Regions from separate parts of the Homo sapiens genome. Here regions 2, 3 and 4 are each reported to be linked to region 1. The links are microRNA targets in miRTarBase. Many come from high-throughput screens and were not tested one by one. Region 1 holds a microRNA gene; each other region holds the end of a gene's coding sequence.
What was found. Region 1 holds the annotated microRNA hsa-miR-4790-3p (UGAAUGGUAAAGCGAUGUCACA, at 2,703-2,724, shown strand). A microRNA usually pairs through its seed, bases 2 to 8, with sites in the 3' UTR of a target mRNA and lowers its output. Matches are read on the target gene's strand: a 7mer-m8 pairs with bases 2 to 8, a 7mer-A1 pairs with bases 2 to 7 and ends in A, and an 8mer does both.

Region 2: miRTarBase lists KLHL36 as a target of hsa-miR-4790-3p. Seed matches in the 3' UTR shown: 7mer-A1 at 2,611-2,617.
Region 3: miRTarBase lists IPMK as a target of hsa-miR-4790-3p. Seed matches in the 3' UTR shown: 7mer-A1 at 2,386-2,392.
Region 4: miRTarBase lists MBD5 as a target of hsa-miR-4790-3p. Seed matches in the 3' UTR shown: 7mer-A1 at 2,445-2,451.

Annotation. Positions count from the first base shown.
Region 1 is chr3:5,248,676-5,252,903 of GRCh38, reverse strand. It overlaps MIR4790 (microRNA 4790), which reads left to right and starts at 2,649; the gene lies at 2,649-2,727.
Region 2 is chr16:84,661,922-84,665,921 of GRCh38, reverse strand. KLHL36 (kelch like family member 36) reads right to left here. Exons shown (of 5, transcript NM_024731.4): 5 at 1-4,000. The coding sequence ends at 3,789. Among named protein-coding and RNA genes, the nearest start is that of KLHL36, 15 kb to the right of the region's middle. RefSeq lists a silencer at 1,958-2,007 and an enhancer at 2,098-2,317.
Region 3 is chr10:58,192,376-58,196,603 of GRCh38, forward strand. IPMK (inositol polyphosphate multikinase) reads right to left here. Exons shown (of 6, transcript NM_152230.5): 6 at 1-4,228. The coding sequence ends at 3,701. Among named protein-coding and RNA genes, the nearest start is that of IPMK, 73 kb to the right of the region's middle.
Region 4 is chr2:148,512,253-148,516,480 of GRCh38, reverse strand. MBD5 (methyl-CpG binding domain protein 5) reads right to left here. Exons shown (of 14, transcript NM_001378120.1): 14 at 1-3,611. The coding sequence ends at 3,540. Among named protein-coding and RNA genes, the nearest start is that of EPC2, 130 kb to the left of the region's middle.

The DNA.
Region 1 (4,228 bases):
TAGGGAGTTCGCTTAAAGCCACATACAGATAGTTATGCCATGTTTGAAAATTCTAGTGGTGGAAAATTCATTTTAGTCTGCCTTTAGCCTTCTCTATCAGAGTAAAGACAGTTATGATTTATTCAGTAAATATATATTGCAGGTGTGCTATGTGTTAGGCCCTAGGTATACCGCAGAAAGCAGCACCAAGTCCCCGCGATCATGCATCTTAAGAGTCTGATGGGAAAGACAGAATAAACATGTACATAACACAAATAAGTAATTACGCTCAAAATGGTCGTAAGAGTAATAGTAAGTAACAGATGGAGGGGTCAAAGAAGTCCTCCTTAAGAAGGCAACGTTTGAACTGAGATCTGAGGAATGAGAATAAACAAAGGAAGCAAAGAATGGGAGGGACCTAGAGGGGAAGATGATAGTCTTTCTGGCCATGTATTGAGCTGCTCCATGCCAGCTCCTTTACAGGCTGTCTTAATCCCACTACTTTGCAAGGAAGGCATAATTTTCCCAGGAGGCAGCCGGGGAACAGAGAACTGAAGGAAATCACCCAAGCAAGTGGCAATGCTAACTGACACTGAGTCACATCAGCACTTGCCTTGTTTTGATAACACAAGGTCAGAGCAAGGGAATAAACCAGAACCACTAAGAACCAAAAAGACAAGCCCTCCAGGCCAGGGAATAGGCAGGCAGCCTCAAGGACTGACTTCAAATGACGCTCTTAAAGGGAATTCTAATATTAGCCACCATGTTCTGAATGATGGTCTCGTGCCAGGCACTGGGCCAAGGCCTTCCCAAGCATTGTTCATGTCCTCCTCATGATACCCCAGAAGGTAGATACTACATTCCCTGCTTTGTAGATGAAGAAAGGGCTGTAGAGCCATCCTTCCGCACACCGCCGTATCCTCTCCTCCATGTCACACACAGACTCAAGCAGAAGTCAAAATTTCAATCTGGAGCATGGATTCCAAAGGAAAGTTATGAGGGTGATTGCAAGACTTTAAACCATGACAAGGGAGCTTTGGTTAAACCAAATTTGAGACTGAGTGCAGTGGCTCAAGCCCATAATCCCAGCACTTTGGGAGGCCGAGGTGGGCAGATTGCTTGAGGCTGGGAGGTGGAGACCAGCCTGGCCAACATAGAAAAACCCCGTCTCTACTAAAAATACAAAAATTAGCCGGGCACGGTGGTAGGCACCTGTAGTCCCAGCTACTGGGGAGGCTGAGGCACGAGAATTGCTTGAACTCAGGAGGCGGAGGTTGCAGTGAGCTGAGATCGCACCACTGCACTCCAGCCTGAGCAACAGAGCGAGATTCTGTCTCAAAAAAAATAATTTTTTTTTAACCTAAAGAAGAGATGAGTGCAGCCAAGAATGAGGATAAGACGCTGTCTTCAAGTATTTGGACACTGGGCTAGCTTTGTTTTGTGTGAACTCAGAAAACAGAACTGGAGTCAGTGGGTGTTAGAGGGAGTCGGGGCAGTCAGTGCCCTACCCAGATCTTGCCTTACCAGGTATTTTCAATCCCAAGTTGCTGTAAGGACTGGCTGCAAACTTCTCACAGCTGCACCCTTTTCTCGAGGATCTACAATTAGGGATGTACCATTGGGAAAGCAATGAAATGTTCGCCGTCTCCCAGCCACTTTATTCAGCCTGAATCTTGGCACATACAATGACTGTCTGAAAATACCAGCCCCTCCATATACAGCTCGCTTCAATAATAACCAAAGAACCAAAGAATACAGTTTGAAGAAAAAATGAATTCCATGGTATTCTGCTTGTCCCCAGGCAGGCAGGCAGGCAGGCAGGCACAAAACAAACCGAAAGAGGACACACCTCCTCCAGCACCAGGAAACAGTTGTGGAGCTTCTCCCTGCCAATATTCATACATTTCCTGGGGCTTTCTCTTTACTTGGATAAATTCCAGGTCACTTATTTCTATTCTCTTTGCGCACCTCATATTTGCCTCCTCTATTTAATCAAGGAAAGTTGGAGGCAAAGTCCGGCTGTAGCAAAAAGCAGTCGTCAAAAACGTTACTCCAAGATCAAATATTTATGCCGCAGCAAGCAAGCTAACTGATTGTGATATCAAAGGATAATAAATCATTTGAAAAAAGAAAGAAAAAGCGATCAATGTGAATAGTATAATTTGCCTTTCATCAGGTGCTGTTGAGATCCTGATTTTTTTTGTTCATCTAACAATGATCATTTCTGATTTTCTTTTCTTTCATTTAAAAATACATTTTTTTCCCTCCCCAAGCCACTCAGATGTGCAGTGCTATTTGATGAGTTTTTGTGGAGGAGGCATCAAATTCCATATTCTGCACCCTGTGAAAGAGAACATGTGTAGTTTTCTGTAGCCTGTGTCTGGTTTTCAAAGGCTCACGCTGTTGTTACATGATTAAGAAATTGATTGAATGGCGGAGTGGGTTAAAGAAAAAAAAGAAAGAAATTGATTGAACTCAGAAAGACTGGAACATTTCAAAGAACAGCCGTGTTCAAATTACAGATTTCGATAAATGAGACTTATGAAAAATTAACTGCAGCCAACTGGCCGATATTTCTCATCCCCAGACACCCCTGCCTCTTCTCCCAAGCTCAAATGGGCAGCAGGTAAAACATTAAATGTAGATTACAAAAGAAAAATGATAATGAACAATGTGACATCGCTTTACCATTCATGTTCACTGAAAGGTAGATTTTAAAAACATGAATGGTAAAGCGATGTCACATTGTTCATTGTCATTTTTAAAGAGTACTGTCCATCTTGTCGCATTTTTAAAATGTTTTATGTGCTTCTATTATGAAATATTCCTGGAAAAATGTGCAAACAAGATCATACTGCGAAGACAAATCGCCCAGGATTTATCATCAGTCTATTCATTTCCAGTGAAAATCACCTGATTTTTTTTTTTTTTTTTTTTTTTGTTGATTCGGAGTCTCGCTGTCGCCCAGGCTGGAGTGCAGTGGCACGACCTCGGCTCACTGCAAGCTCCGCCTCCCGGGTTCCCGCCATTCTCCTGCCTCAGCCTCCCGAGTAGCTGGGACTACAGGCGCCCGCCACCGCGCCCGGCTAATTTTTTGTATTTTTAGTAGAGACGGGGTTTCGCCGTGTTAGCCAGGATGGTCTCGATCTCCTGACCTCGTGATCCGCCCGCCTCGGCCTCCCAAAGTGCTGGGATTACAGGCGTGAGCCTCCGCGCTCGGCCAGAAATAACCTGATTTTTACGGAATGCTCAGCACATATGGAATTTGGTATTCTCATTTTAAAAATGTACTTAATACAGTTATTGGGATATAATTCACATTCCATAGAATCCACCTATTTATTTTTCTGCCTTTTTTTTTTTTTTTTTTTTTCCTGAGACACAGTCTTGCTCTGTTGTCCACACTGGAGTACAGTGGCATGATCTCAGCTCACTACAACCTCTGCCTCCCAAGTTTAAGCGATTCTCGTGCCACAGCCTCCTGAGTAGCTGGAATTACAGGCATGCATCACTACACCTAGCTAATTGTTGTATTTTTAGTAGAAACGGGGTTTCATCATGTTGACCAGACTGGTCTTGAACAAGTGCTGGGATTACAGGAGTGAGCCACTGTTCCTGGCCTTTTTTTTTATTTATTTAATAATTTCAACTTTTATTTTAGATTCAGTGGGTATATGTGCAGGTCTGTCACATGGGAACACTGCATGATGCTGAGGTTTAGGGTACAGATGATTCTGTCACCCAGGCAGTGAGCACAGCACCCAATAGGCAATCCCTCAGCCCCTTCCCTCCCTCCTGCCTCCAGCACTGCCCAGTGGCTATTGCTCCCATGTTTATGTCTATGTGTACTCAATGTTTAACTTCCACTTATAAGTGAGAACATGTGATATTTGGTGTTCTGTTCTTGTGGTAATTTGCTTAACATAATGGCCTCCGGGTACATCCATGTTGCTGCAAAGGACATGATTTCTTTTTATGGCTACAAAGTATTCCATGAATCCACCCATTTAAACTGTATAATTCAATGGTTTGTAGCGTATTCAGAATTGATTCTTTTGTAACCAGTTCTGTTACTTTAAATTGGTCTTCTTCGGAGGAAAGTCTTGGAGAAAAATAAAAAAGAACTTTTAACTTCATGAACACTGAACTCAGGAAATCAATTCTAGTTTTGTTCCACCCCGTGGCTTCTTTCTTTGTAAAATTTTCTCTTTGCTTTTGGAAGAATCCATTCCACCAACTGAAGTTTTCT
Region 2 (4,000 bases), not on the chromosome of region 1:
TGCTGCACCATGGAGGACCAGGGTGAAGGATGAAGGTCAGTGACTCTACAGGGGGTGGTGGGGGGTGTGGCAGGGGTCCCCTCACTTCCCACATTGCTGCAAGTCACTGAACGATCACTTGGCTTAGGGGCCGAGGTACACTGAACCACAGGTGAACACAACTGAGCTCACAAAGTAGGCCCCTGGACCTCAGAGGATGGACCCCACTTCCCCTCAGCATCTGGATGCCCACCTCAAAGGTGAACACCCCTTAGGGTGAGTTTCTGGGTCTCCATGAAGTCACCTTATCATGAGTGAGGGCACTCAATATAAATACACACGTGTGGTCCTGCTCAGAGCCAGGTCTGAAGTCCCACTTGATAGCCTCAATAAAATGGCAGAACAATAAAAATACCAATTGCGTGCTAACCACAGTTGATAAAATAATCTCTGTGCATTTAAAACAGCAGGAAGTTTGCTATAAGTAACAAGGGTTCATCAGCTTTCTACTCCCTCCCTTCTATTATTATAATACATCTATGTCTTAAGCAAACAGCTTTCCAACTTGGGTGAGGACCAAACCCCAAACTTACAACTAATATGAAGTTACAACTCTAATTCTTTAGAAATGAGAGAAGTCCAAACCTCAATAGAAGCCTGCCATGCTTATTTTGAAATGTTAAAAAAAAAAAAAGATCCAGGTGTCTTCAAAATTCAAGCAGAATAGCTTGAAACACTGAAAGTTTAACATGATGACATGTGTGGCTGTTTCCCTCTCAAAATGGCAGCCTGCAAGCACCTGTGCCTTCATCACTCTAGTTTAAAACCCCACATTCGTGACTGTGCGGTTCAAATGGCCACTGCATAAGCACAGCCCAAACTCTGCCCATCTGAGTTAAAAAACATTTTATTCTTTTGAGACAGGGTCTCACTCCGTCACCCAGGTTAGAGTGCAGTGGTGTGGTCATAGCTCACTGCAGCCTCAACCTCCCAGGCTCAGGTGATTCTCCCACCTCAGCCTCCTAAGCAGCTGGGACTACTGCATGCCCCACCATCCCTGGCTAATCTTTTGTAATTTTTTTGTAGAGATGGGGTTTTGCCATGTTGCCCAGGCATGGTCTCTTCCATTTTCAGTTCCATTTTCATGCACAGTAGGGTGAATTTTCAACTTAAAAAGACAAGTAACAAAAACCTGGCCCGGGCACCACCACTGGGTGCCCTTGTGCCCATCCACTGACCCCAACAAGCTCAAAAACCTTTCTTGTCACAGTGTAGCCACCATCAAATATTAGAAGTTGACCCACAAGATGAAACTTGTTTATCCTCCCTTTAAAAGGGTGGTCCCAACCTTAGTAATATTAGGGTCAAAGCCATGTCAATTACAAACCACCTTCATAGTATCAGGAGAGACACCACAAAATATGAAGCGCAGGACGTCGTATGTAACTCATGAGGCACAAGAAAATCAGAATAGAGGCCAGAAGCTCACACATTTCCAGGGACAAGTCCCAGAAGCAAAACATAAAAGAGCTGGCTTAGGCTGAAAACCAATGGCTCTCCTCTCTCCAAGGTCAAAGCTATCCCACTCCCCAAATCACTCACAGAGTCTTTCTATGTGCTCTCCCCAACTTGCCCCGAGATTCAGGCCAAACAACTGCCCGTTTGTTCATGACCCAGGCTGAGATGGGGAGAACAGCCCACGTACACCCTACCCTGCCTTCTGAGGGGTCTACAAGCAATAAAACCTTTCCCGAATAGGAAGGGGGTAAGCTATCCCAAAGTTGGCAGAAGTTCTGCAAAACATGTTTTGTGGGGGTCTGGGACTAGGTATGAGACAAACGACTTTTAGGCTCAAAGAAGTTTGGAAATGCTGGGTTGAGACTTCTCGGAACCTTTCATACACCGGAATGCTGCAGAGCTCCAAGCAGAGTTTCCAGCCTTTTGGTCTGTTTGTTTGTATGCCTCGCAGAACCTCTCAACAGTTTGTAAGCCTCCAGGGACTTCACATGCAAATAACTAGCTAGCTGAACATGCAGACTGCCCTCCTCACTAACCACAGAGGGCAGTAAGTTGGCTATTGAAGCTTTCAGTCCCCAAAATGCTCTCATCTCTTCTGGATGGCTACATAAACAGACCAGTGAGAACCACAGTAAACCCTGAAGGGAAGGGAAAGGAGGGGCAGCAAAGAAGCAGAAGAAATGGAAATTAAAGTTAACTAAGATTTTTTTCCTAGTCTAATATCAATCTTAACACATTGATCCTCATCCACTCGAGCAGCTGAGAGCCCTCTTAAAGGGCAAGTGACATCGAGACCTGCTCTCGGAACTGTCTGCAGGAAGACTGGTGTTAGACTAGGATTGAAGATGAAGCACATCTTGAAGTTTACTGATCTCTGCCATCGGATGCTGGGTGAGGTACAGCTCATTCATGCCTTCCTTGGCTCATGCTTAAAACCCATCACACTCCTATCCTCCCATAGTTCTGCACGTTTCTCATCCACTCGGGCAGCTAAGAGCCCTCTTAAAGGGCAAGCGACCCTGACACCTGCTTTAGGAACTGTTTGCAGGAGTCAGTGCAGGCCAGCTCCACATCCTGAAGGGGATGCCATCCGGGTACGAACAGCTCAGAGGCTGAATGGCCCTATCACCCGGGAGGAGCCTGGAGGGTATTCCATCTAATCCTGTGGCTAAGCGGGGTGGATGAGGGAACACACGGACTTGTTCGAGAATTTGCCCAGCAGCACGAAACTACTTAGAAGCAGAAAACTGGGGCAGGACCTGGCGTGGGAGTTAGGGAGCCCTCCACTGCCTTCTCAGGGATCCACATGTGCTCCTCTGTGCAGGAACTTTCAACAGCGCCTCAAGATAGAGTCACAGAGAACGATGGCAAATTCCATAGCACTCACTTTTTCTTTCCTGAGAAATAAACAGATTTGGGAGCTCAGTACATCAGTAATATAAAAGACAGTGGGTTCAGAAAAAAAAAAAAGGAAAAAAATGCACAAATTACAAAAAAATATGTATAAAGAGCTTCATACCTTTTTTCGTTTTTGGTTACCTGTAACGTTTTAGAATTCAAGAAGGTTTCCAATGAGGAAAGACGGAATTATTCAGAAACAGCGTTCACCTGATACGGAGAACAGCTCCCCAGCGGGAAGTCATCATGTCTCATCTGACAGTCTAGCGAGCTGCGTGGCCCCTGGTCACTCACTCACTCACCCTCATGGGTGGTCTCTGTGCACTCATTTATAAAACAAACACACTGGACCTTGCCAGTGATTCCCAGATGTGACTAATACCCAGAATTCCAAGAACTAGTTAAAATACAGCTTCTGGGCACCACCTCCTCCCCGTTCCTGGTGGTTTTGGATTCCATAATTCTGAGCGGGGCTCACGCATCTGTATTCTTAAAAGTTCAGCCAGGTTTGGGGAGGCTTGGACTAGGTGGCCTAAGAGAACCCTTTGAGGCCCAAGCTTCACTACAGAAATTTCTGTGTTACCCACGTGCCAGCTACTCTCAGGGGGACAGTCAGCAAGGACCCATGAGGAATCATAACACGGGGCAAAGACCTGTGAAGATACAAGGGGTTGCTCACTGCCTGGGCCCAGGGTTAGTTATTCAAGCAAGATATGTAAAGTTACAGATAGTATTTAATTGGTTACTGTGATATCATAGAAATACCAAGAATCATAAAAGTAAAAAAAGCTGCTAAGTTGTACATAATGTTTCCGGAATACTAAGAAGTTGCTGCTGGTCTACAGAGCCCTGGGAGGTGACGGTGAGGATGGTCCCAAGAGGCGCAGCTAGGGTCACTGGCCCCGGTCCTGGTGCCTCTTGCCTTTGCCTTTCTTCTTCTTGTCCTCTGGCCGTGGCTCCAGGGCGCAGACACAGGCGGACCCGCCAGCGATGGCCTTGGGCAGGTCGACGCCCCTGCTCCACTTGTCGGCCTCGCGGTCGTACACCTGCACGGTCTTGGAGAAGGCAGTGTTCTCCCAGCTGTAGCCGCCCAGGATGTAGATGC
Region 3 (4,228 bases), not on the chromosome of region 1:
TCTAAATAAATGTACCTTTGCCAGCAAGGAAAGTGAAAAATTAAGGCTTTTTTATGCTATCTGTAACTAATACCCAAACTTAAATAGAGGTTACAATACTGTAAAATATTACTTCTAACTTCAACTATTGTTAGATGCTTCATTTCAACCCCACACTTATTATCTTATTTAGATGCCTATTTTTCTATATCTCTATTTTAATTAAGTCCCCAATCCCACCCCATCCAAAGAGAATGCTGAAAATGGTTAGGGCCTTATCCGTTTGGTTCACAGTTGTAATACTGGGGGCTAAAAATGCTTAATACATGGCATAAATCCAAGGAATATTTTTGAATGAACTAAGAAGCCTGGCCTCCAAAGGCAACCCTACTTGTTTTTCCAAAGCATTAACAGATAATTGTTACCTCTTTAAATAATCAGATTGACAATTATTAAAAAGGAATCGATGTTTCCTAGGCTATGAAAACATCAAAAACATGTAATAGAAAGGGTAACTGAGGGTACAAACATATCAAATCAAGACTAAAGGCACTGGAGAAAGAAGGTAAGCATTATAAACAATTTTTAAAGCAAAACAAGTTTTAAAGTATAAAATGCCAAACTACTAAGAGAAAATGTACTAAAATGACAATGCTTTACCATAGTGGACACAATTCCTGTAATTTCATAAACAGAATTCTTTCGTTGTTCTATCGTTTTCTTTCATCCTACATCTTCTATAATATTCCAACCCCTAGAAACAAATGTATTTTCAGTAGCATGAAACAAAAAATTGCAACTGAAGTATCTGTGGAAATTCCTTTTTCTTAAATGATGTTATAAATTTGATACATAGACTTGATAGACATAAGAACATCATCTTGGAAATCATAAAATACTAAATTATGCTCAATCAAAATACAGACGAAGGTTCTTCAGTTAAACAGTTTAGAGCCCCATAAGAGCAAACTGTAGTGTAAAGAGGAAAAGTAAGTACAATCTTTCCAGACACACAACTAATAATGAATACTGAGTTGAAATACCACAAGCTCCACATTAGAGCCATTTAATATACACATTTCCATAACTGTTTCTTGAAAAACTATTTAGATAAAATATTTAGCATTTATCATTGATTTTAATTTATTTGAATCTATGCAATGTCTATCCATATTAAAATATCAATTAATGTAAATATTATAAAACTATTATACAATTTAAATTTTTATTAGAGAAAGGTATTATTCACATCCACAATTTCTTAAAGTCCTTTTTAAATGAGTGTATTCCATAAGAAATACACTAAAATCATTACTTATGTTTCATAGGGGAAAAAAAACTATGAGAATCCTATTAACCCAAACTATATCCGCATTATGCTTATTTCTTAAGCATTTACATGTTCAAATATACTTGGTGAATAGCGATCATTCATCCCCACAGTGGTAAATTTCAGCATAATATTAAGTGACCGAGAGAGACTAAGATAGTCACATGTAGATTAGATAAACAGATACTTATTCTGTTATACCTAAGCCTACTTATAAAGCAACATAAAATGAGCATTGGATAACAATGATAACAAATGTAAACAAACAGAATTAAATGTTAATCCCTTCCCTGAAAAACAACAGATAAAAGGGCTTCTTGCTTTATTAAAAACAAAACATGATCTATTGTATCAAAAAGGTAAGACATTGATTTTACAAAATTGTATTTCCAAATGCAGATAAAAAAATCTTGAACATTAAGATTTTATTGAGCTAAAATGTGCAAAAAATCTGACAATACTTAAGTTTATTAAATTCATTGTACATAGGTTGATATCATCCCATACAAAAAAAGCCTCAGTATCTTGTTAAGATTCAAAATAGTGTTTAATTATCTGAGCTTAAGATTTATTGAACCACTATCCAAATAACAACAAAATCCATATTGTAAAAGAAAAAAGTAAAACTAAAAATTCTGATTATTATGACTTGAAATTCATTCCCGTTAAAACATAAAACTATAGCCAATATCCATTCAAAAAGTGAAGAAAAATTGGAAGTCCCTATGATAAATACACCAATTCTAAATAAAAAATTAAAATCAAATTTTGCTATTACAAAATGAACATGATCTTTTAAATTATTCAGGTTTAATAGATTTACTAAGGATAGAGTTCATAGAGCATTTAGTTGGTACTTCTGTTTGGACTCAGGTATTTGCAAAGTGCCCTCAGAGAAGGCTGAGAAGGTAAAATAAACATAAAATTGTGATAATTTTCTCCACACCACAATAAAGGTGCTCGGATTTAAAAATTCAATTTGTAACTCCAGAAGAAAAAGAGGAGAAAGAATTTACAACCCCAAAATATTTTCCAGGAATATGACAAAACTGATAACTACCTAGAAATGTTATTAGTGAATGGAAGTGCAAGTAATGGCAGCATTAACATCAAATGTATTTGAAGACTCAAAGTTTTAAATGTTTTAAATGACAAATAACTAGTTGATTTTTTTTTAAGGTGGTGGGTGTGAAACAAAGATAATACAAATCTAATTTTTCCAGGAACTGTAGCACTGCCCCTGTCCCCATGAAATTAAGTTACAATTTCACTGGTCAACATAATATAAAACTGTTTTGAGGAAGAGTGAAATAGAAGCATGAATATAGATACGCACCAAACCCTATATTACGGACTAATTTACACACAGTATTTTTGATAACAACCTAATTAGATATTGTCTTTCATTGCTTACTATAATTCTGAGAAACTGTTTTTAACAACATACATTTACACTACCACTTAACTAAATGGGGACATATAAATACATAAATTTTTAAAGAAAAAAATTCAAGTTATTTAGAGGAGAAATAAAACTTCAATTATTTACTTTTTTGAAGCTGCATTTAGATACAAAGGTATATGGTTTATGATACTTTCACAATGTAATAAATTTATATTCCAATTTTCTCATGAATGAAAGATTGTAAAGGAAAATATTTTGTTCCTTGAAAATAATATCTCTCTTCCCCTAACCCCAGTAAGGACAATTAGTGTGCCCTTAATTTCAAGACTTTGTTGTTGTCATCCACATCAATTGTCTTTTTCATGAAGTATAATATTTTGAGAGAGAGATGTAAAAATTAAAGAGAAAACCTGCTTTTGGAATGCAACAATTCTAAATCATTTCACTAAGGAGCACCCTTTGATATGCTGGTCTGAACTTTTAATATAAAACCTAAACAGTACTTATTTCTGAAGTAGAATTTTCTCCAGTTTTAGTAACTTCATACATAGCAATACTAAGGACATCAACCTGTGCTTTCGAGATTTTGGTAGGTGTTCTAATAATGTAATATTTTAGATATGGCTCATTGTCAAGGCTGGGTGGACAGAGATTTCATGAATTGGCTACAGAAAGCTAACTAAACTCTTAATGACTGAATAATGGTTTGCATTTTGCTTGAGCCAAAAAAGATGTTTAAGCCATGTACCACCACATTCCCTGCTTAACATTCCTAAGTTTCTTTATTCTTCATAGTTTTCTAATGAACAAATAGTTAGTTTTCCTGAGTAAGATTATAAAAAAGTTAACCATTCTTCCAAAAGTATAAAGACAAATAAAATGTCGACTCATAATACAAATTTTTTACATAGCATTAAAGGTGCAGATATTGACTGCCCCTCTTCATTATGATTGGCCCACCCCTTAAAAAGACTGCAACAGAGGATTCAATTGTCTAAAATACTTCGAAGTACAGAAATTAAATGCTTTAGCCCATAAACATATCCCTCATCTATTGTGTTGCTAGGGAACACATGAGCAAAATCTATCATTCGCACTTCTACTTCAGCAATCTCTTGGCAACCAGTGGGAAGATGGTAGAAAACTTTTTCCAGTTGGGAAAGTACATTTCCATTTAAATGTTCCTGTGACATGCTTTTCCACCCATTGTCTTGCTCCAGATTTTCAACTTTCAATGAAGTCTGACTGTGATGCTTTTTTGTATATATTTTCCTGTGACGCGCATACATCTTGGACAAGCTTTTGCCCACTGAAGACTCTATTTTTCCATTAGCTGTGGAACTTAACACATGAAAGTTATTATTGTACTCTAGTACTTCTGTGTCTGACAGTTGTCCTTTGGACAAAAACTTTTCTGCCAAAGTTCTGTCATTCAATTTTGTAGTGGTTGGCTGAGATGAACCTTCATAAACAAAGAGTAATGAACTTGCGTAAAAATTAAGCTGCTTCTGGTT
Region 4 (4,228 bases), not on the chromosome of region 1:
TCATGTCCCCCAAATGAATCAATGCACAACTCATTTGATATACTACATTGAAAAGTCTTGAGTCTTGCATTACACCATTCGGGCATAAATGGGCAAAGTAAATAAGATATCCAATTTTCAGCAAGGTCTAGTATTTTGTCTTTCTTTTCAGAAAGAGCAATGCCACCAACATCTTAAGCATCTTAGATTTTAAAATCTTAATGCATATATGCTTGTGACTTGCAAGGGAACACTGCAAACTGCATGGAAGATTACCAAAGTTAACAACAATGTGCTATCATGGTCTAAAATGAAACATGAGTCACCTCGTAGGATATAAGAATCTTCCTAAAACTTACAGAAAGTGAAATAACTAACTGCCCTTTTCTCTTCCTGCAATTCTGCAGTGTTACGTTCAAATAAGAAGGCTGTGTTTACTTAAAAAACAGGCATAGCAAAAACTCAAAGTCAGGGTCCAAATAAAAGACTAAAAGTGGCCCATGATATCACAAGGGATGAATGTTCTTAAAACATTTTCATTCATAATGGCACTGAAAAGTACAAGCCAAAAATGTTCCTTTAAATAAATAAAAACCCTGGTTTGCTTTTAATGCTACAAACAAGACAAATCACACAAAAGCTGCTCAGTTAATTTTCACTCATTTGAAATAATTTTTAAAACCTTCTTAGAGGTTTAGTTTATTCTCCTTGTGCTTCCTAGGACTGTTAAGGGACACAAAATAAAATTAGATTTCCTTTTCCAGCAGGAACTATTATGTTCTTTAAAGAAGAAAAAATTTTTCATCTGTTTCCATTCTTGGATTTGTTTCTTAAAAAGTTTATTTTAGGGAATAAAAATTTTGGTAACATAGAAGGCCTAGCCTTCATTTAAAAAAATGAATTGGCTTCAATACAAAGACAAAGAAATGGCTCTATGGGCAAAATTGAAGTGCGAGTGACCAATTTTTTAATTGTAAAGTAGGTGCAACATTTAAAAAAATGTTACAGCACTGTATGACCTGTAATGCTAACAATATTTACATTAACTGCTTACACAAAACCATATAACTCTAAGAGAGATGAAAAAAACCCACGTGGACTGAAACTACTACACCTAGCACCCATATCAAAGCCATAGCAACCAGTGAAATCATGGGCACAAACATACTTTACATGGTCTACTTATGTAAAGTATACAATGGGAGGGAAGCACAAACTGAATTAGCTCAAAATACCAAAAAGAAGGCTTGGTCAACACAAACTCAGCCTGAAGACAGAAAAGCAAAGGCTAAAAAATTTACATATCAACACATACACACATACAGACACACCCAGCATACAAACACACATGTCTGTCTGTCTGTGAATAAACAAAAATGTGTAGGAAAAAACAGTAGAAAAACAGGTTGGTGCAAAAAAAATGGACATTAATGGTTTAAACATACTAGCCACATCAACTTTTAACTTATAAACATGTGTCAACTAAACTACACAAAAGATTACTTCATGTGACTGCATGAAGGAACTGGGCAGGCAATCCCACCATTACAAGAGAGACAAAATGAACCTACCCCCAGAACGAAGGGTTCCTACTTTGAGGTCATGAAGCCCAGGGTAGCCAGTTGCATTCCATCAGGCTTGGGGGTAGGTTGAAAGTAGGAACAGAGGGACAGAGAGACACAGGAGACCTAGGGGAATAACTAAGAGCTGTTGCTATCAAAAGTGAGCCCAGGTGGCATGCTCTGTGCTGTGGCCCCAAGAAACCAACTTAAGGAATGACCTTGGTCTCCATTTTCCTGAGTTACTGGAACTCTGCTACATGACAGGACTGAGGAGTTTGGGTGGTGGGTGGGAGAGGAGCAGTAGGAGAGGTGGTGGGCAGTTTGAGGTGCTGAGCCTGCTATTGGAGAATCTCCTAGCAGCCTGAGTGGCAGACTGTTGTGTGAGCCCCAGGCTAGAGGACGAGGCAGTGCTCTCTAGGGGTTTAAGGGTTTGGGGCAGGGACTGGTGGTTCCAAGAATAAAGGGATAATAGATCCCTTCTTTTGACAATCCATCAACTGAAGTCAGGCTGGAAGCCTAAACTTTGCTTAACTGCCTGGAAGATAGGGTAATACCACCACCACAAAAATTGTGAGAAGAAGACGGAAAATTATGTTGTGCTACATTTCTTATTAATTACCTTGTACTTTACAATGGCTCACAGTTTTAGGTTTGTATACTTGTAATGTAGTATTTTCTCTCTACATTTGTTTCACATTTTTTCTTACTTAATATAATATAAATAATTTGGTTAATAGATTTAACCTGCACATTTTTGCCACATTAATATATATAAGAATCTGTTAATGGTATAAATAATTCTTTAAATAAAATAAATCTGATATGTTACACAATACTGATAAAAAAATTACCATTGCTAATAATTCCGTAAGCCACCTTAACTTCTGGGTTAAGTAATACTGATGAATGGATATGAAACTTGCTTTGATGATTCATATTTATATTTGCCACTACAAAAAAATGAATTATTATCAATCTTACCTCTGATAATGGTTGCAAAGTGGGGTTTTTGCCTCCATGTACGGAAATAGAAAGTTTTACCTTGTCAGATATCATTTGCAAAAAAACCCTCAATTCTGAGCACCAGCGGTGGTGCAGTCAGTATAAGCTATCTGCTTCAACAGGTGGCTATCAAATGTTAACTACAGAAATGGCTGAGTAAAATATTCCATCTAAGATTTTTTTTTATAAAACCTATTCTATTTTAAAACTTAGGTAAAAAAAATATGCAACAAATGGTTGCAGTTTCTGAATTCTTAATTTAGACCTGTGAGCCCTCATCCCTTTAGAAATCTGCAAAGTTGCAATTTCCTAGACACCCGAAATTGAGTCCAGTGCTTCCAGGCAAGGTTCATTCCAAACAGACAATATAAATGGACACTCAGTGGTGTGCAGTGTATGTCATAATTCAGATATTACATCATCATGCCTTTTCTCTGCTGTTAAATACAAAAACAGCATCTTTTACATTATCATAGAAAAGCATTTAGGTTGTATTTTTATTTATCACTTTACACTGGTAGTCTCTGGTAGGTGTACTCCATAGAAACCAAAGAATTTTGTACACTATTTCTTTGTACAATAAAAGATAAAGTGTGCATTAGGTACGCTTGTACATGACAATACTGTACAATATTTACATTTCTGATATCACCATGAAATTCTGTATTTTCTATATACAACATTGAAAATTCTTCAGAAACATTTGGACTATTTCTTATAATCACAATTTAGTATTATAGAAAAAGAGTTTCTCAGTAATCTCTTGACCATTGATCACTCTCATCACACAGAGACTTTGATTGGCTTTTCCAGCATTCATTATCCTTCCTGATCAAAAAAATTTTGTATCACTGTTTCTTTTAGCACCCTGTGGTGGTGGTAGCTATCTGCCATAGTCTAAATATTGATATAACTGTGGCTATATCAATACCTATATACAGATACATCTGTGCATGTTCCTTTAATAAACACTGCGCATTAGTGGAGTAGTCTCTGTTATCTGGAGATCTTCCTCCTCTTGGGTTTGGGGGGTCTCATTTGTCTGTCACCCTGTGGGATTTGGTGTACCTGGAAATAAAAAGGTAGAAAAAAAACAACAACAACAGAGGATGAAATCACAAACACCATAAAATTTCTGACAAAGGAGCAGGGTAGGGAATAGACTCTGGCTTTCACTTTCAATTACTGATATCCTGAGGCACTTCAAATGTTTACCAAGACCCCAGATGTCAGTGTGCCCACAGTCACTACAGAGAATGCAGAATGCTAGAAACTGATAAGCAGTGCAACACTCTGCGGGTGCCAATAGACAGTGGAAAACAAAGGATGAACTGGACAAAATCAAGTATGGGAAATGCAATGTGCAGTTGTTACCCCCATTGTCCATTTAAAACAAAAATAAAGCCTTCCCTGTCAGAGACCCTAGATCACCAATTTCACTACAGCCTGGAAGAATGAATAATTACACACCAAACATGCCCCTTTTTTTCCCTCACTTTGTTACCCTACTTATTTTACAATGACTAGGAAGGGTCACAAATTATAATAACATGCACACATAGCTCAGCCCAAGGATGTTTGTTCATAAGAAGAATCAAAATGGAAAAGAGAATACCACTATCATCTGTTGGCAGATCTGAAATTGTGTAGTCTGGGAGGAGCAGTTAATACAACTCACCTTTCTT